4 linked regions of the Homo sapiens genome follow. The protein of the gene in region 1 interacts with the protein of each later gene in a pairwise test. Each region holds a gene or a part of one and is shown in the gene's direction. Other genes may lie near its edges.

Region 1 (4,501 bases):
GCCAAACAGGGAAAAAGTTAATGGCGAAGTGTCGAATGCTTATCCAGGAGAATCAAGAGCTTGGAAGGCAGCTGTCCCAGGGACGTATTGCACAACTTGAAGCAGAGTTGGCTTTACAGAAGAAATACAGTGAGGAGCTTAAAAGCAGTCAGGATGGTAAGGGGTTTGTTTCTTTTTGGAACGTTGTCTCAACTTTGCATTGGCTTTTTAAAACTGCCAGTCATGAATATTATAGGTTAGATTCTGTACATTGTTAACCTCTGCCCTATGATTGTATATTATTGTGAGTGAAGCATTTTTAGTTGAGTCCGCAAACAAAGCCATATAATTTTAGTTTGTTTATCCCCACCCTCCTAATTCTTTATTGTTCAAAATTTCTTACATTTTTGTTTTTAGTTGGGGGTAGGATTTGGTAAAAGATAAAAGGGTGTTGTATTACTTAACAAGATGGACAAATTTGTATTCATTGTTTGAAAGGGAGAATAAGCATTTCTCGTTAAGTGTAAATCTTAGAAACATGGGCAGTTTTCAGCGATCTGAAAGTAATAAAGTTGATTGTATCTGTGAAGGTTTTATTAGTGAATAAGAGATTTAATCTTTAAATTTGCTGAGATAAAACTTGTCAGCCTCCATCCTTTTTAGTGCAAGTGTAGCTGTATCTCTGTTTCTCTTCTTTGTAAGGTGCATTATTAATAAGGAAAATATCCAAATTCTTTGAAATTTTAAATTGAAAATTAGTGTCTCTGGTTAATTGCAAAGATGATCAGTAGCCAAGTAATTTCTTCTGAACTACCTACCTTTTCAAAATCTTCAGGAATTATTTCCTGTGACTTTTGTCCTTTTATATGTAACAGTCCTTGGTTGAGAACATGGGCCTCTTTGGAGTGTTATAGAGGACCACACTATCCTTAAGGATCAGACTTGCTATGGAACTAAGGCACTGGATCAGGAATAAGGGGATTGGCCATAGTGGGCCCATAGGTAAACGTGAGTCAAACTTTGGGGCTGTAATCAGGCATATGGCAAGATGGATCAAAACAATTTTAACTTGGTTGCTTAATACAGTTGCCCTCGGTATCCATGGTGGATTGGTGTCAGGACCTCCCACAGTAAGCCCCTCATATAAAATGATGTCATATTTACATATAAACCTATGTACATCTTCCCCTTTGAGCCATCTCTAGATTAACAGTACCTAATACAATATAAATGCTAGGAAAATAGTTATTTTACTGTATTGTTTGGGGGATAATGACAAGAAAAAAAATCTGTACATGTTCAGTATAGACCCAGTTTTTTCTTCCTTGAATATTTTCCTTCTACAGTTGCTTGAATTCATTGTTGCATGTGGAGGGCCAACTGTATATTATTTTAAGTATCTGACTTCCCCCAAAACAAACTCAGTCATATTTTAAGATTCCAAGCAAAATTTTTAAATGTAGTGTGATTTTAGAATTGTATTTGTTTACTTGAGCGTTTATTGACTCCCTTGCTTTGTGGCAGGCACTAAAGAAACATTTTTCAATGTTATAAACGATATTAAAGTTGGTCTGACTCTCCTTTGCACAGAACTGAATGACTTCATCATCCAGCTTGATGAAGAAGTAGAGGGTATGCAGAGTACCATTCTAGTTCTGCAGCAGCAGCTGAAGGAGACACGCCAGCAGTTGGCTCAGTACCAGCAGCAGCAGTCTCAGGCCTCTGCCCCAAGTACCAGCAGGACTACAGCTTCTGAACCTGTAGAACAGTCAGAGGCCACAAGTAAAGACTGCAGTCGTCTGACAAACGGACCAAGTAATGGTAGCTCCTCCCGCCAGAGGACGTCTGGGTCTGGATTTCACAGGGAGGGCAACACAACCGAAGATGACTTTCCTTCTTCTCCAGGGAATGGTAATAAGTCCTCCAACAGCTCAGAGGAGAGAACTGGCAGAGGAGGTAGTGGTTACGTAAATCAACTCAGTGCGGGGTATGAAAGTGTAGACTCTCCCACGGGCAGTGAAAACTCTCTCACACACCAATCAAATGACACAGACTCCAGTCATGACCCTCAAGAGGAGAAAGCAGTGAGTGGGAAAGGTAATCGAACTGTGGGTTCCCGCCACGTTCAGAATGGCTTGGACTCAAGTGTAAATGTACAGGGTTCAGTTTTGTAATATTTTTTCAGCAAATTTTTATACAGTGTCATTTAATTTGGGAGAGGATACTGTCCAGAAAATTAATGCATACTTTTGTCACAATTTGCCTTTTTGTGGGTGTACGTTTTGGTTTTTTTTTGTTGTTTTTTTTCTTTGTTTTTTTTTTCTTTTCTTTTTTTTTTTTTTTTTTTTTTTTTGCTTCAATACTTCTGCCGCTTTGGAAATTGTAACAGTTAATTACTTTGAATGTTGCTAAAAGGACATTTTGTGTAGGGTCAAGTTATTTTTATATGAGTTAATGTGAAATTGTAAATGGAAATTTTTCCTTAAAATACAACACAATGATGTCTGTATAAATCTGTCTGTTTAGAATCTGTGCTGTGTAAGGGCATTCGTACTCATGCTGTTACTGTACTTATGCACCATTCAGACTTGTTAGAGTAGATGTGGGTTTATGACTGCCAAGTTTGCCCAGTACAGTAGTTTTTTATCACTAAAAGTTGGACTCATTGATGGAGTCCTGTAGTAGTTTCAGTGTTAGATACAGTTTTTTCCACCATACATCTGTGCATTTTCTCTTTAGGTGACTGTTTAAGAAATTTGTGTGCATAGTTACTCAGTTTTTATGAACTGTTGTATCCTGTTAATGCATATTGCTCTGTGACTCCAGTATATCTTACCTGTACTGACCAAACCTAAATAAAGATTTTTATTGTAACTCCTTAATTAGCTTTTTTGTTTTGTTTTGGGTGTATGTTTAGCATTTGTCATTTTCATTGAGTCATTGAATTTCTACTCATTATCCTTCAAGTACCACAACAGTCAAACTTAAGACCAAGCATCGATTACGATTTTGCACACAATTTTTAATTTATGCCTTATTTTGCAAAACGGAGCTGGAGTTTAGGGCTACACTTAAAATTTTTTCTTGACTTATAATTGTTACAAAATATTTTAAAATACAGAAAAGTATAAAGAAAATAGTCATCTATTTCTTAGGCTTTTTTTTTTTTTTTTTTTTTAATTGAGACAGGGTCTTGCTTTGTCACTTAGGCTCAAGTGCAGTGGTGCAGTCATGGCTCACTGCAGCCTCAAAGTCCTCGACTCAAGTGATCCTCCCACTTCAGGCTTCCGAGTACCTGAGACTATAGGCATATACTACCACACCCAGCTACATTTATTTTAATTTTAGTAGAGACAAGGCCTCGCTATGTTGCACAGGCTGGCCTCAAACTCCTGGCCCCAAGGGATCCTTCTGCCTTGGCTTCCCAACGTGTTGGGATTGCAGGAGTGAGCTACAGCTCCTGGCCCTTTTTGAGTTTTAATTGAAAAGCAGCGTTGGTTTTTTGTGACCTGATTTCAAGTAGAGTATCTTTGTAGTTAGTGATGTTTGTTTTAAAACGCTGGCCAGCACTACTGATTTTTACTAACAACATATCTGGTAATATTATATGAGTAAGGGGTGTTAGAATGTAGGTAGGAGAAAATGTTTTTAAGGTGGAAGAATGTCAAAATTTGCTCCATTTTCTCAGAGGTAATTAAGTATAAAAGTATGATATTGAATGGCCTTCAAATGTGTAGCTTTCATATATGGTTGAAATGAAATTCCATTTCTGTTAAAAGCAAAGTATTGTTTTAGACATAACTTGTAATACAATCAAGGAACCTTGGGAGTGGAGTTATAATACTCGAAAACTGAGGTACAACTTATTTGAAAGTAATTGCTGCTTTTGCTTGTTTAGCTGATACAGGTATATCCGGTCTTCAGCAGTATGTTAAATACTGCACTGTCTCTTGATTAACCTTTTCTTTTTTTTCTTTTTCTCTTTTTTTTTTTTGCCGAGAGTCTCGCTCTGCCACCCAGGCTGGAGTGCAGTGGCACCATCGTGGCTCACTGCAACCTCCACCTCCCGGATTCAAGTAATTCTCCTGCCTCAGACTCCTGAGTAGCTGGGATTACAGGCGTGCGCCACCATGCCCGGCTTATTTTTGTATTTTTAGAAGAGATGAGGTTTCACTGTGTTGGCCAGGCTGGTCTCGAACTCCTGACCTTGTGATCCACCCACCTCGGCCTCCCAAAGTGCTGGGATTACAGGTGTGAGCCACCGCGCCCAACCTTGATTAACCTTTTCTACAGTCTGCTCAAGTGAGTAAAAAATCCTATACGATTTTTAATTTGCATGTGATTAAACATTTTGGTGTTTGATATATCAGATACTGTGTTTGGCTTTTGTTATGTACATCCTTCAACTTGACCAATTTAAACAAAAATGTAATTTCTCTGTCCTGTTGGTGTAATGTAATCAAGAGTTTGTGATAGGAAATTAATTTTTCAACCAGTGATACAATTTTATGACTGAATTTAA
Region 2 (4,159 bases), on another chromosome or scaffold:
TGCCACCACACCTGGCTAATTTTGGTTGTTTTCTTTGTTTTGTTTTTTTGGTAGAGACAGGGTCTCACTGTATCGCCCAGGTTAATCTCAAACTCCTGGTCTCAAGTGATCCTCCTACCTTGGCCTCCCAAGATGCTGGGATTGTAGGCATGAGCCACTGTGCCCAGCCTGCTTTGTCCTTTTTAATTAAAAATCATGTATTGGCCGGGCACAGTGGCTCATGCTTGTAATCCCAGGACTTTGGGAAGCCGAGGCAGGCGGATCACTTGAGGTCAGGAGTTCGAGACCAGCCTGGCCAACATGGTGAAGCCCCGTCTCTACTAAAAATACAAAAATTAGCCGGGTGTGGTGGCAGGCACCTGTAATCCCAGCTACTCAGGAGGCTGAGGCAGGAGAATCGCTTGAACCCGGGAGGTGGAGGTTGCAGTGAGCCAAGATCGCACCACTGCACTCCAGCCTGAGCAACAGAGCAAGACTCTGTCTCAATCAATCAATCAATATCATGAGGAAAAAGTCTTCTTTAAAATTTGAAAATTAATTTTTATTTCAGTAGCTTTTGAGGTACCAGTATTTTTTTGTTATAGGGATGAATTATGTAGTGGTGAATTCTGAGATCTTAGTAAACCAGTTATTCCAGTAGTGTACATTGTAAGTAATGTATAGTGTTTTATAGTGTACATTGTAACTAATGTATAGTGTTTTATAGTGTACATTGTAACTAATGTATAGTGTTTTATAGTGTACATTGTAACTAATGTATAGTGTTTTATAGTGTACATTGTAACTAATGTATAGTGTTTTATAGTGTACGTTGTAACTAATGTATAGTGTTTTATAGTGTACATTGTAACTAATGTATAGTGTTTTATCCCTAGCACCACTGCCATCCTCCCGCCTTGAGTCTCTAAAGTTCCATTATATCACTCTGTATGCCTGTGCATTCCCATCATTTAGCTCCCACTTACGAGTGAGAACATAGTTTGTGGTTTTCCACTCCTGTGTTACTTAGAATAATGGCCTTCATCTCCATCCAAGTTGCTGCAAAAGACATTCATTCTTTCCTTTTACTGGCTGAGTAGTATTCCATAGTTTATAGATACATTTTCTTTATCTGCTCATTAGTCAATGGCCACTTAGGCTGGTTCCACATCTTTGCAATTGTGAATTGTGCTGCTATAAACATACGTGTGCAAGTATCTTTTTCATATAATGACTTATTTTCCTTTAGGTAGATGCCCAGACTGCTGGATTGAATGCAGATCTACTTCGAAAAAGTCTCAAGTGCCTAACTATCCCCTGTTCCCTGTGTTCTGATTTCTTTTTTTTTTTTTTTTTTTTTTTTGAGATGGAGTCTTGCTCTGTTGGCCAAGCTGGAGTGCAGTGGTGCAATCTCGGCTCACTGTAACCTCCACCTCCCGGGTTCAAGTCATTCTTCTGCCTCAGCCTCCTGAGTAGCTGGGACTACAGGCATGTGCCACCACCACACCCGGCTAATTTTTGTATTTTTAGTAGAGATGGGGTTTTGCCTTTTTGGCCAGGCTTATCTTGAACTCGTAACCTCAGATGATCCACCTGCCTTGGCCTCCCAAAGTTCTGGGATTATAGACATGAGCCACTGCGCCCAGCCTGTGTTCTGATTTCTTTACCTGTTATATAAGCTTACCATTCCTTCCAGTAGCCTTATAACATAGAGGGACAGGGGCTTATTTCCAGGTAGAGTAGGGAATTTGGGGTCCACGGAGTTCAGGTTCTTGCCAGAAGTGACGTTGCTGCTTAGTGTTGAAACTGAGCCCACCAGGACCAGGTGCAGGTCATTTCCTATTACCTGTCCCTGCCCTCCTGCCCCGCCCAAAAGAAACTTTATGATGGTGAGAAAGTGATACATATTCAGTGGGAACTGTGCTCCCATACCCCTACAACCATTCTGTTTTTCACTGTCAAAACAGTACTCAATAAATTACATGAGATTCGGCTGGGCGTGGTGGCTCACGCCTGTAATCCCAGCACTTTGGGAGGCTGAGGCGGGAAGATCACTTTAGGTCAGGAGATCGAGACCATCCTGGCTAATACGGTGAAACCCCATCTCTACTAAAAATACAAAAAAAAAAAAAAATTATCTGGTGCATAGTGACGCACGCCTGTAATCCTAGCTACTCGGGAGGCTGAGGCGGGAGAATTCTTGAACCTGGGAGATGGAACTTGCAGTGAGCTGAGATCACAGCACTGCACTCCAGCCTGGTCAACACAGTGAGACTCTGTCTCAAAAAAAAAAAAATTACATGGGATTCAACATTTTCTTATATAATAATGAAAATAGGCTTTGTGCTAGATGATTTTGCCCAGCCGTAGGCTAATAGAAGTGTTCTGAGCACATTTAAGGTAGGCTAGGCTAAGTGATGATGTTCAGTAGATTAGGTGCATTAAATGCTTTTTCTTTTCTTTTTTTTTTTTTGAGATGGAGTCTCGCTCTGTCACCCAGGCTGGAGTGCAGTGGCTCGATCTGGGCTTACTGATCACCTCCCGGGTTCACGCCATTCTGCCTCAGCCTCCCGAGTAGCTGGGACTACAGGCACCCGCCACCACGCCCGGCTAATTTTTTGTATTTTTAGTAGAGATGGGGTTTCACCGTATTAGCCAGGATGGTCTCGATCTCCTGACCTCATGATCGGCCTGCCTCAGAATCCCAAAGTGCTGAGATTACAGGTGTGAGCCACCACGCCCGGCCAAATGCTTTTTCAACTTACGATATTTTCTTTTTTTTTTTTTTTTTGAGACAGAGTCTTGCCCTGTTGGCCAGGCTGGTCTCGGCTCCCTGCAACCTCCGTCTCCTGGGCTCAAGCAATTCTCCTGCCTCAGCCTCTCAAGTTGCTGGGATTACAGGCATGTGCCACCATGCCCAGCTAATTTTTGTATTTTTAAGTAGAGACGGGGTTTCAACATGTTGGCCAAGCTGGTCTCGATCTCCTGACCTCTGGCAGTCCTCCCACCTCAGCCTCCCAAAGTGCTGGGATTACAGGCGCAAGCCACTGTGCCCGGTCAACTTATGATATTTTCAACTTACAGTGGGTTTGTCAGGACATAGTCCCATCCTAAATTGAGGAACATCTGTATACTAGACAGGGACTTCTCTGAGGTCAGGGACCCTGTTTTCATTCTGTATCCCCAGTTCCTGACAAAATCCTAGCATGTATAACATCGCCTACAACAAGTTTGTTCCAGGAAAGAGTGTTTCATAATAATGACACTTGCTACTAGGCTTTTTAGTGGCTGGCAGAGTGCTCTCACACCACTGTTAGTTAATACTCGTATTCACCCAGTCAAATGGATGTTCTCCCCATCCTAGAGGTGTGCACCCAACAATTAGAGCAATCACAAGAGCACACACTTCCTAATGAGAAAGTTCCAGAAGGATTATCCTGAATACCTTGAAAGGCTCAGATTGCAAACTTGGCTGGCAGGCATTTCCTTCACCTGCTGGGCTGTTGACCACTGAATCTCCTGATTTTAGGCTCCAAGATTATGGCCCATGCCCCCCAGGCCGCACCTCGTTCCTTACCAGGTTCTTCCTACCCCCTCCCCCAGGAGATTGCTGCGATGATTGACACTGAGTTTGCCAAGCAGACCTCCCTGGACGCAGTGGCCCAGGCCGTCGTGGACCGGGTGAAGCGCATCCACAGCGACACCTTCGCCAGTGGTGGGGAGCGTGCCAGGTTCTGCCCCCGGCACGAGGACATGACCCTGCTAGTGAGGAACTTTGGCTACCCGCTGGGCGAAATGAGCCAGCCCACACCGAGCCCAGCCCCAGGTACGTGTGCTGTGCAGACAGGCAGTGCCTGGGGATGCCATCTGGGGGCCAGAGGTGGGTGCAGAGCCCCCGAGGCTGCTTGAAACGGAGATGGAGTCAGGAGGCCTGGCTCTGAGTGGCTCTAATTCAGGTTCTCTGATTTTTAGCCTCTCTGAGCTGAGTGTTGATTTTTGCTCTTTTGTCTGTAAAATGAGGTTAATACCACCTGCCCCGGCAACCTCCCAGAACCTGAGTGCCCCAGCAAGCAATTCACAGAGCCCTGAAGCCACATAATAGAGATGATGGCCACCACTGATTGAGTGCCTCCCTTGTGCCAGGCACACAGCCTGCCTTATTCCCTTCAGTCCTCATGGG
Region 3 (4,159 bases), on another chromosome or scaffold:
CCGTGTCAGCCTCAAGCTGTCGTTCCCTTCCCACATCCTGCTCTGGCCGTGTTCTCTCTCTGCAGCCTCATCCAGGGCTGGGGGAGGGGACAGGCAGAGAAGGGGAAGGGGGCAGTATGGCTGTGAGCTTGGGATGGGGTCGGCAGGTTCCCCATCTCTCGGGCTCCTGGCCCAGGCTGTGTCTTGTTCCCAGCGCTGAGGGCAGGAGCAGGACCTGCCTGTCATTGGTGGTGGGAGTAAGAGGTCGGAGCAGGGAGCGGAGCAAGGGGCCTGCCCGTCTGTGCTCCTGCCTGGTTCCCATCTCGTGTAAACCGAGCCCTGATGACTTCCACGAAGAGGGCCCCGCCATACCCCGTGTCCCCATCCCCAGCGGTGTTCAGCTCAGGGTTTCCAGCCCTTTCTTCTGGGCCCTCTGGGCCCCATCGTGTGTGGGATGGGCATCCATTGAACTGGGTTTTGTAGCCTCATGCTCAGGGAGTGGTGTAGGGCTCAGCCTGTCTGCTGCCCACTGACTCTGCCCTGGCCTGCAGGTGCCCTGCCAGTCAGCGTCGTCAGCCTCTGCCCTGGGCGGTGTCAAAGTGGAGAGGCAGGTCTTTGGGGAGGCCACCAAGCAGCCAGGCATCACCTTCATCGCAGCCAAGTTCGATGGCATCCTGGGCATGGCCTACCCCCGCATCTCCGTCAACAACGTGCTGCCCGTCTTCGACAACCTGATGCAGCAGAAGCTGGTGGACCAGAACATCTTCTCCTTCTACCTGAGCAGGTGGGCGTGTGGGTTCCCTCTCGCTCCGCGTTGCTGGGAGGCAGGGCGGGGCTGGACGGGGAGCCTTCTAGGCACCCCCTCTCAGTGCTGCCCCCTCCCTGCTGCTGTGCCAGAGCTCCTGACCTCTGACCTCAGGGCATCCGGGAGGCGGGGGTTGGCCGCCCTTCTGCAGAGGAGTAAGCGGCAGCACAGAGAAAGCTGTTTGGCCGGGGTCTCCCAGTGGGAGGGGCTCGGGCCAGGCTGTGGGTCCTGGGACCTTGGCAGCTGGGCCTCCCTCCTATGAGAATGGACCCAGGTCAGGGGTCGTGGCAGTTCCTCTTGGTTCAGTCGGCCCGTCGGTCCCCAGACCTGGTGATGGGCACATGTGGTCCTGGTCCCGGGGTTGCTGATGGTGGAGAGGGTCATGGTGCCCAGGGGACCGGGGATCCCCGGGGAGGTGACCTTGGGTGCGTATGGGTCCCCGGCACCACGCTGCGAGCAGCTCTGTGGGCGTCCCCAGCAGGTGCCGGCTGCCCTCGAGGAGGAACATAGGGGGCCCTTCCTTCTGGGAAAAGGGTTCTCCCCCAGGGCCCCCACCTGCAGCCGCTGCTCCAGCTTGGGTGACCCATGGTCAGGTGACCTTGGGAAGGGGACGTCGGACTCAGTTAGTTTCCTCTTCTCGGGGCAGACCTGAGTGGAGGGTTCCACATAAGAGGGGTGACTGGGGGTTGGGGGCTTTTGTTTTGGGGGTGGGCAGCGTGTCAGCCGGCGGCCTCCTGCCCTGAGCTGCGCCTGGTCACTGCCCCACACTCTCCAGGGCTGACAGGGGCAGGTTTACCTCACGTGGCTCACTTGGCACTTGGAGTCTCTGGGCCTGACCCCTAACCTTGGATCGCTTCCGGCAGAATTCCGGCTGTAGGGCTGGCTGGGCCTCTTTGCTCTGCCCCTTGCCTGGGCAGTGAATACTCCTTAGCAACACCCAGGGCTAAGCTGCTCACTAGAGGCCAGGACACAGGTGAACCGGCTGGGCCATTTCCCCAGGAGCCTTGGGGCACAGGGGAGGCAGCCAGGTGAAAAGGGGTCCCCTGAGGGCAAGAGGGCATGCAGGCATGAGTGCCCACATGGGGAGGGGGCACACAGCCTGAGTACCCAGGTCAGGGAGGGGGACACAGGCATGAATGCCCATGTGGGGGAGGGGCACACAGCATGAGTGCCCATGTGGGGGAGGGGCACACGGTATGAGTACCCAGGTCGGGGGAGGCATACACAGGCATGAGTGCCAGGTGGAAGGAGGGGCACACAGAGTGAGTGCCCAGGTGGGGGAGGTGCACATGGTTGTGAGTGCCCAGGTGTAGTCTCAAGGCAGCAGCTTGGGCAGGAAGTGGAGCCAGGCAGGAGGGAGGGTCTGAGGGCTTCTGAAAGCATGTTTGGTGAGGAGAGGAGGGGTGGGAGGCGCTGATCAGGTTTCTACACTTGGGATTGCAGAGGTGTTGACAAGAGGCAAAGGCGGAGGAGGCTGGAGGAGGGCGGAGGCCCCAATCGGTGTTGGGAGGACTGGGTCAGGCCTGGCACTGCCTCGAGTGACAGGCAGTGGGATGGTGGCCAGCTTAGCTGCAGACGCTCTGGCGGGATGGCAGAACCGCCCCAGACACAGAGAGCTTCTCTACCAGGACCGGCAGGATTTGCTGCGTTGAAAGCTGTACTTGAGCAATGTTTAGAAACAAACCCGGGCGACATGGGTTGCAGGTCCTAGGAAGTGCAGTGCGCTCCTGCCCAGGAGCACCTTGGCTGGCCATCAGTGGTCTGGATGAGGGGGAGATGAGCGGACGTGGCTCGGGGATGCAGGTGGAGGGTGTTCCCAGGAGCAGCCAGTGCAGAGGCCCTGCGGCCAGAACCAGCCATCCCAACTTCCCAGATTGTGCCATCACTCCCTCCTGGAAGCCTTCTTTGGTTTTTTCTTCCAGACAGACAGACAGGGTCCTCCCCAGTGGAGCTCCTGGCACTCACTTCCTTGTCTGCCGCTAGCCTTGACCCTGATGTCTGGCTGAACCTTGGCTCCTGAGCAGACCAGGAGAACCTGAGGGTTGAGGAAAACCTCTTCTGGGCCAGGCTGGGCCCACGCAGAGCAGCCCTACCCCGGGAAGAAGGGAGTCTGTCCCTCCTCCTGCCTTCTGGGCCTTTCCATCCCTGCAGTTTCAGAAAGGCCCCTCCTTCAGGAAGCTCTCCCTGATTGCCACATTCACCCTCTTACTCCTGACCTGGCACTCTTGTGCTTGGGGGGTGGCGTGGCAGCTGACTCCTCCCTTTTCCTCCTAGGGACCCAGATGCGCAGCCTGGGGGTGAGCTGATGCTGGGTGGCACAGACTCCAAGTATTACAAGGGTTCTCTGTCCTACCTGAATGTCACCCGCAAGGCCTACTGGCAGGTCCACCTGGACCAGTGAGTAGTGGCTGCAGTCGGCTCCCCTGGGTTCTGTGGGCGGGGGCGGTGTGCGGAGACCCTGGAGGACCCCGGTTCTGCAGGTGGGGGTTGCATGTGGGGAGTAGTGGGAGCTGGGCAAGAAAGAGATGGGGTCAGACCAGCCCTCCATGCCCCTCCTTGCCCCTCCATGCTCCCCATCACCTCCATCCCCTCTATTCCCTCTATCCCTCCATCCCTCCATTTCCTCCATGCCTCTGTGACTCTCCATGACCCACCATCCCTTCTGTCCATCCCTCCATGCCCTCCATCCCCTCCATCCCCTCATCCCTCTGTGACTCTTCATGACCCTCCATCTCCTCCATCCCTCCATCCCCTCCATCCCTCCATCCCTCCATCCCCTCCATCCCTCCATCCCTCCATCCCCACATCCCTCTGTGACTCTCCATGACCCTCCATCCCCTCCATCTGTCTATCCCTCCATCCCTCCATCCCTCCATGCCCCTCCATCCCTTCATCCCCTCCATCCCCTCCATCCCTCTATGCCCCTCCATCCCCTCCATCCCTCCATGCCCCTCACCACCACCTGAGGGTCTCCCACCCCCTCTACCACTCTGTGTCTCCTCTCCCACCCTCTTCCCTGGAGGGCTTACAGCCGGCTGTGCTTCCAGGAGCCCTGAGGGGAGGAGAGTGCAGCCCAGCCAGGGGAGGGGCTCCCAGGGAGGGGCACTGGGCCCCCAGGGCACACTCCAGTCCCGGCAGGGGCTTCACGCCCTGACTCCCCGCAGGGTGGAGGTGGCCAGCGGGCTGACCCTGTGCAAGGAGGGCTGTGAGGCCATTGTGGACACAGGCACTTCCCTCATGGTGGGCCCGGTGGATGAGGTGCGCGAGCTGCAGAAGGCCATCGGGGCCGTGCCGCTGATTCAGGGCGAGGTGAGCGCCGGGGGCTGGGGCTGGGGCTGGGGCTGGCAGGGGGAGCCCCAAGGCCACCACTACCAC
Region 4 (4,159 bases), on another chromosome or scaffold:
CTCCCCCTCTGCTGTCTTCTGAGGCTGATTTCCCCAAGACCTGCTCTGGGACCGCTTTGTGCTTTCGCCCTCAGGGCGGTCAGCATTCCAATAGCTGTGCAGCGTATCTGCTCTCTGCGGCACCCACGTTTTGTCTTGAGCGCAGCCTCTCCTCCGAGCTCTGGGCTTGTATATTCACCTGCCTATTTGGCGTCTTCACATGCACGTCTCATCTCAAACTTGGCATACCCCCTCTGCATCTGCATACCCTGTTCTTTTTGTCTTTCTCATCACCCATTTTATTTCTCCATTTCACCCAGCTGTGCAAGCTGAGAACCTCCTACATTCATGCCATCACCAGCTAACGTCTTCTCCACCTTCAGAAGATATCCTGAATCCATCTACAGACTCTCCATCTCCATCCACATGCTGCTGTCTGGGTCTCAGCCACGCTGTCTCACCGGCTTCTACTTCCCGTTGGCTAATATGTGCATTTGTAATGTCAGGGGATATTATCTGCTTCCTTTCGGATACACTTTCTACACAGTAACGTCACCTTTTAAAAACACAAGTTAGATTATAAAGCTCTTTTCTTTTCTTTTTTCTTTTTCTTTTTTTTTTTTGAGACAGAGTCTCACTGTTGGCCAGGCTGGAGTGCAGTGGCGTGATCTCGGCTTACTGCAACCTCCGCCTCTTGGGTTCAAGCAATTCTCCTGCCTCAGCCTCCTGAGTATCTGGGACTACAGGCGCCCGCCACCACGCCCAGCTAATTTTTTTTTTTTTTTTTTTTTTTTTAGTAGAGATGGGGTTTCACTGTGTTAGCCAGGATGGTCTCAATCTCCTGACCTCGTGATCTGCCCGCCTGGGCCTCCGGAAGTGCTGGGATTACAGGCATGAGCCACTGTGCTCAGCCTTTTTTTTCTTTTTGAGATGGAGTCTCGTTCTGTCACCAGGCTGGAGTGCAGTGGCGACATCTTGGCTCACTGCAACCTCCGTCTCCTGGGTTCAAGTGATTCCCCTGCCTCAGCCTCCTGAGTAGCTGGGATTAAAGGCATGAGCCACCGTGCCCAGCTAAGTTTTGTATTTTCAGTAGAGACGGGGTTTCACCATGTTGGTCAGGACGGTCTCGAACTCGACCTCAAGTGATCCGCCTGCCTCAGCCTACCACTGTGCTGGGATTACAGGCATGAGCTACCACGCCAGGCCTAAAATTCTTTTCTTAAAGCCCGGTAATAGTTTCCTATCCCACTTTGGAGAAAATAAAAGCTCCTTGCCATGGCTTGCAAACCCTCTGTGATCTGACCCAACTTGTGTTTTCACCTCTTCCAGCCACTCTGACTTCTGACCCGTTCCTCTCACACACGCTTTGATATTTTCTCAGAGGTGTTCCCACCTCTACATGTCTCTCACCGCACTGCCTGAGGCACCCTCCAGGGTGGGCTGCATGTACCCCAAGCCTGCCTGGCACCTAGCGAAGGATGTGGTCTGTTGTGGGTGCTCATGTGTTTGCAGGATGAGCAAGTCAGCCAGCCCGGGACCCCTCGGAGCCAGTCACAGAGCCTGGAGCAGAAGACTGCTTCCCTGAGTTCTGGTCCTGGATTCTTTTTCCACGCCAGACCATTAGAAGTTTCTGAAATTGACTTCCTAATTTAGAGGTGTAAAAAGTGAAATGTCTGCCTCTCTATATCTCTAAGTCACCTACTTGCCCTTCCAAGGGCCATCGATGTCATCAGTCTCTTGGGTATCCTTCCAGACATAATTTGTGCAGGTGCAAGCCAACACGCATAGAGTGTTGCATCCCCCTTTCCATATAGCATGGAGAGCCCTGTCCTGAATCTTGTTTTTCAGGCTTAATTTATCTTGATGAATATTGTGTATCAACACATGAAGAGCATTACTAGCTTTTGTACCTATATAGGGTTCCACCTTGGGGATATGTCATTCATCTCATCTGCTGTGGGTGAACATTTAGTTTGTGCCTAGAGTCTTGCTGTTACCAATGATGCTGCAGTAAATAACTGTGGACACCGTGTAACTGCACAACACATTGCTTTCCACACCTGTGAGTGTCTGTAGGATACACTTGCAGAAGTAGACTTGCTGGGTCGAAGAGGGTGTGTGTTTCTTACTTCGATAGGTACTGCCAGGCCCTCTAGAGAGCTGTGATAATTTACACCTTCCCCAGCAGTGTAGAAATTGTCTCTTTCCCCACAACCTTGCCTATAGTTCATACATCTTTGAGTTTTGCCAGTCATATAGGCGAAAACTGCATTCTCAGAGCAAGTTTATTTTTAATACTTTTTTTTTTTTTTTTTAAGACAGAGTTTCCCTTTTGTCCCCTAGGCTGGAGTGCAATGGTGCGATCTCGGCTCACTGCAAACTCCCCCTCTCAGGTTCCAGCAATTCTCCTGCCTCAGCCTCCCAAGTAGCTGGGATTACAGGCACCTGCCACCAGGCCTGGCTAATTTTTTGTATTTTTAGTAAAGATGAGGTTTCACCATGTTGGCCAGGCTGGTCTCGAACTCCTGACCTCAGGTGATCCACCCGCCTCGACCTTCCAAAGTGCTGGGATTATAGGTGGGAGCCACAGCGCCCAGCCTCATTACTCTTATTTTTGAGTGAGGCTGAACTTCTTGCCATCTATTTAAGAATGTTTCGGCCAGGTGCGGTGGCTTGCGCCTGTCATCCCAACACTTTGGGAGGCCAGGGTGGGCGGATCACCTGAGATCGGGAGTTCCAGACCAGCCTGACCAACATGCAGAAACCCCGTCTCTACTAAAAATACAAAATTAGCCAGACATGCTGGTTCATACTGATCCCAGCTACTTGGGAGGCTAGGGCAGGAGAATCGCTTGAACCCAGGAGGCAGAGGTTGCGGTGAGCCAAGATCGCGCCATTGCACTCCAGCCTGAGCAACAAGAGTGAAACTCCGTCTCAAAAAAAGTAAATAAAGAAAAATAAAAAAGAATGTTTTGTTTTATTTTCTGTGAACTTTATCTGTTTGTATCCTTTTTCTATCTTTATTAGATTATTAATTTTTTATTACTTTATAGATATGCTTCATGAATTAGCCCTTTATGAACTGAGTTGCAAATATTCTTTTCCCCATTTCTTGTTTAACTTATTGTGATTTTTGCCACACAGAGATGTTAAAATTTTAATGTTTGAAGGTCAATCTTTTATTTTTTATTTATTTATTTTCTGAGACATGTTCTTGTTCTGTTGCCTGGGCCTGAGTGTAGTGGCGAGATTGTGGCTCACTGCAGCTTTGACCTCCCAGGCTCATGCGATCCTCCTTCCTAAGCCTCCCTGGTAGCTGAGACTACCACGCCTAGCTAATTTTTGTATTTTTTGTACAGACAAGGTCTCCCTATGTTGTCTAGGCTGGTCTCAAACTCCTAGGCTCAAGCGTTCCTCCCACCTCAGCCTCCCAAAGTGCTGGGATTACAGATGTGAGCCACTGGGCCCAGCCGACCAATCTTTGGTAGCTTCCAGTTTAGTGTCATAGTTAGAAGTCCACACTCCCAAGTTACAAAAGTTTCCTCATAGCTGATTCTTGTTTGTTTAGGGCTTTGTTTTTTTTCCATTAAGTCCTTGATTTGTTTGGAATTAGGCCTGATGTGGTGTGAGGCATGGACCAAACTTAGTTGGCATTTTTCCAGATGATTATGTAGTTTATTTTAATACCATTTTTTCACTTTCCCTCTTTTTTTTTTTTTTTTTTCTTTGAGTTGGAGTCTTGCTCTGTCACCCAGGCTGGAGTGCAGTGGCGTGATCTTGGCTCACTGCAAGCTCCGCCTCCCAGGTTCATGCCATTCTTCTGCATCAGCCTCCCAAGTAGCTGGGACTACAGGCACCTGCCACCACACCCGGCTAATTTTTTGTATTTTTTAGTAGAGATGGGGTTTCACCGTGTTAGCCAGGATGGTCTCGATCTCCTGACCTTGTGATCCACCCTCCTCGGCCTCCCAAAGTGCTGGGATTACAGATGTGAGCCACCCTGCCCGGTCTACTTTCCCTCTTTATTTGATATGTTACTTTTATGATATGCCAAGTCTTCTTTATATCCATTTTGCATATTTCTTGTTAGGTTTGTTTATCGTTATTTTGCATCTTTCGTTGCTGCTAGAAACGAAGTATTTTCTTCCATGTTATCTTCTCACTGTTCTTTGTAGATATG

What was found.
Region 2: the proteins of WTAP (region 1) and TAB1 interact in a two-hybrid assay, tested with the Homo sapiens proteins (one large-scale study listed by BioGRID and IntAct).
Region 3: the proteins of WTAP (region 1) and CTSD interact in binary tests that used the Homo sapiens proteins (3 or more experiments, as listed by UniProt).
Region 4: the proteins of WTAP (region 1) and GTSE1 interact in a two-hybrid assay, tested with the Homo sapiens proteins (one large-scale study listed by BioGRID).

What each region holds. Positions count from the first base shown.
Region 1 is NC_000006.12:159,753,459-159,757,959, forward strand, and holds the end of WTAP (pre-mRNA-splicing regulator WTAP), read left to right. Parts: intron 1-1; coding exon 2-156; intron 157-1,569; coding exon 1,570-2,153; 3' UTR 2,154-2,861; downstream 2,862-4,501. UniProt on the Homo sapiens protein: Associated component of the WMM complex, a complex that mediates N6-methyladenosine (m6A) methylation of RNAs, a modification that plays a role in the efficiency of mRNA splicing and RNA processing.
Region 2 is NC_000022.11:39,423,121-39,427,279, forward strand, and holds part of TAB1 (TGF-beta-activated kinase 1 and MAP3K7-binding protein 1), read left to right. Parts: intron 1-3,582; coding exon 3,583-3,805; intron 3,806-4,159. UniProt on the Homo sapiens protein: Key adapter protein that plays an essential role in JNK and NF-kappa-B activation and proinflammatory cytokines production in response to stimulation with TLRs and cytokines.
Region 3 is NC_000011.10:1,753,928-1,758,086, reverse strand, and holds part of CTSD (cathepsin D preproprotein), read left to right. Parts: intron 1-530; coding exon 531-763; intron 764-3,058; coding exon 3,059-3,181; intron 3,182-3,948; coding exon 3,949-4,093; intron 4,094-4,159. UniProt on the Homo sapiens protein: Acid protease active in intracellular protein breakdown. Plays a role in APP processing following cleavage and activation by ADAM30 which leads to APP degradation.
Region 4 is NC_000022.11:46,299,211-46,303,369, forward strand, and holds part of GTSE1 (G2 and S phase-expressed protein 1), read left to right. Parts: intron 1-4,159. UniProt on the Homo sapiens protein: May be involved in p53-induced cell cycle arrest in G2/M phase by interfering with microtubule rearrangements that are required to enter mitosis. Overexpression delays G2/M phase progression.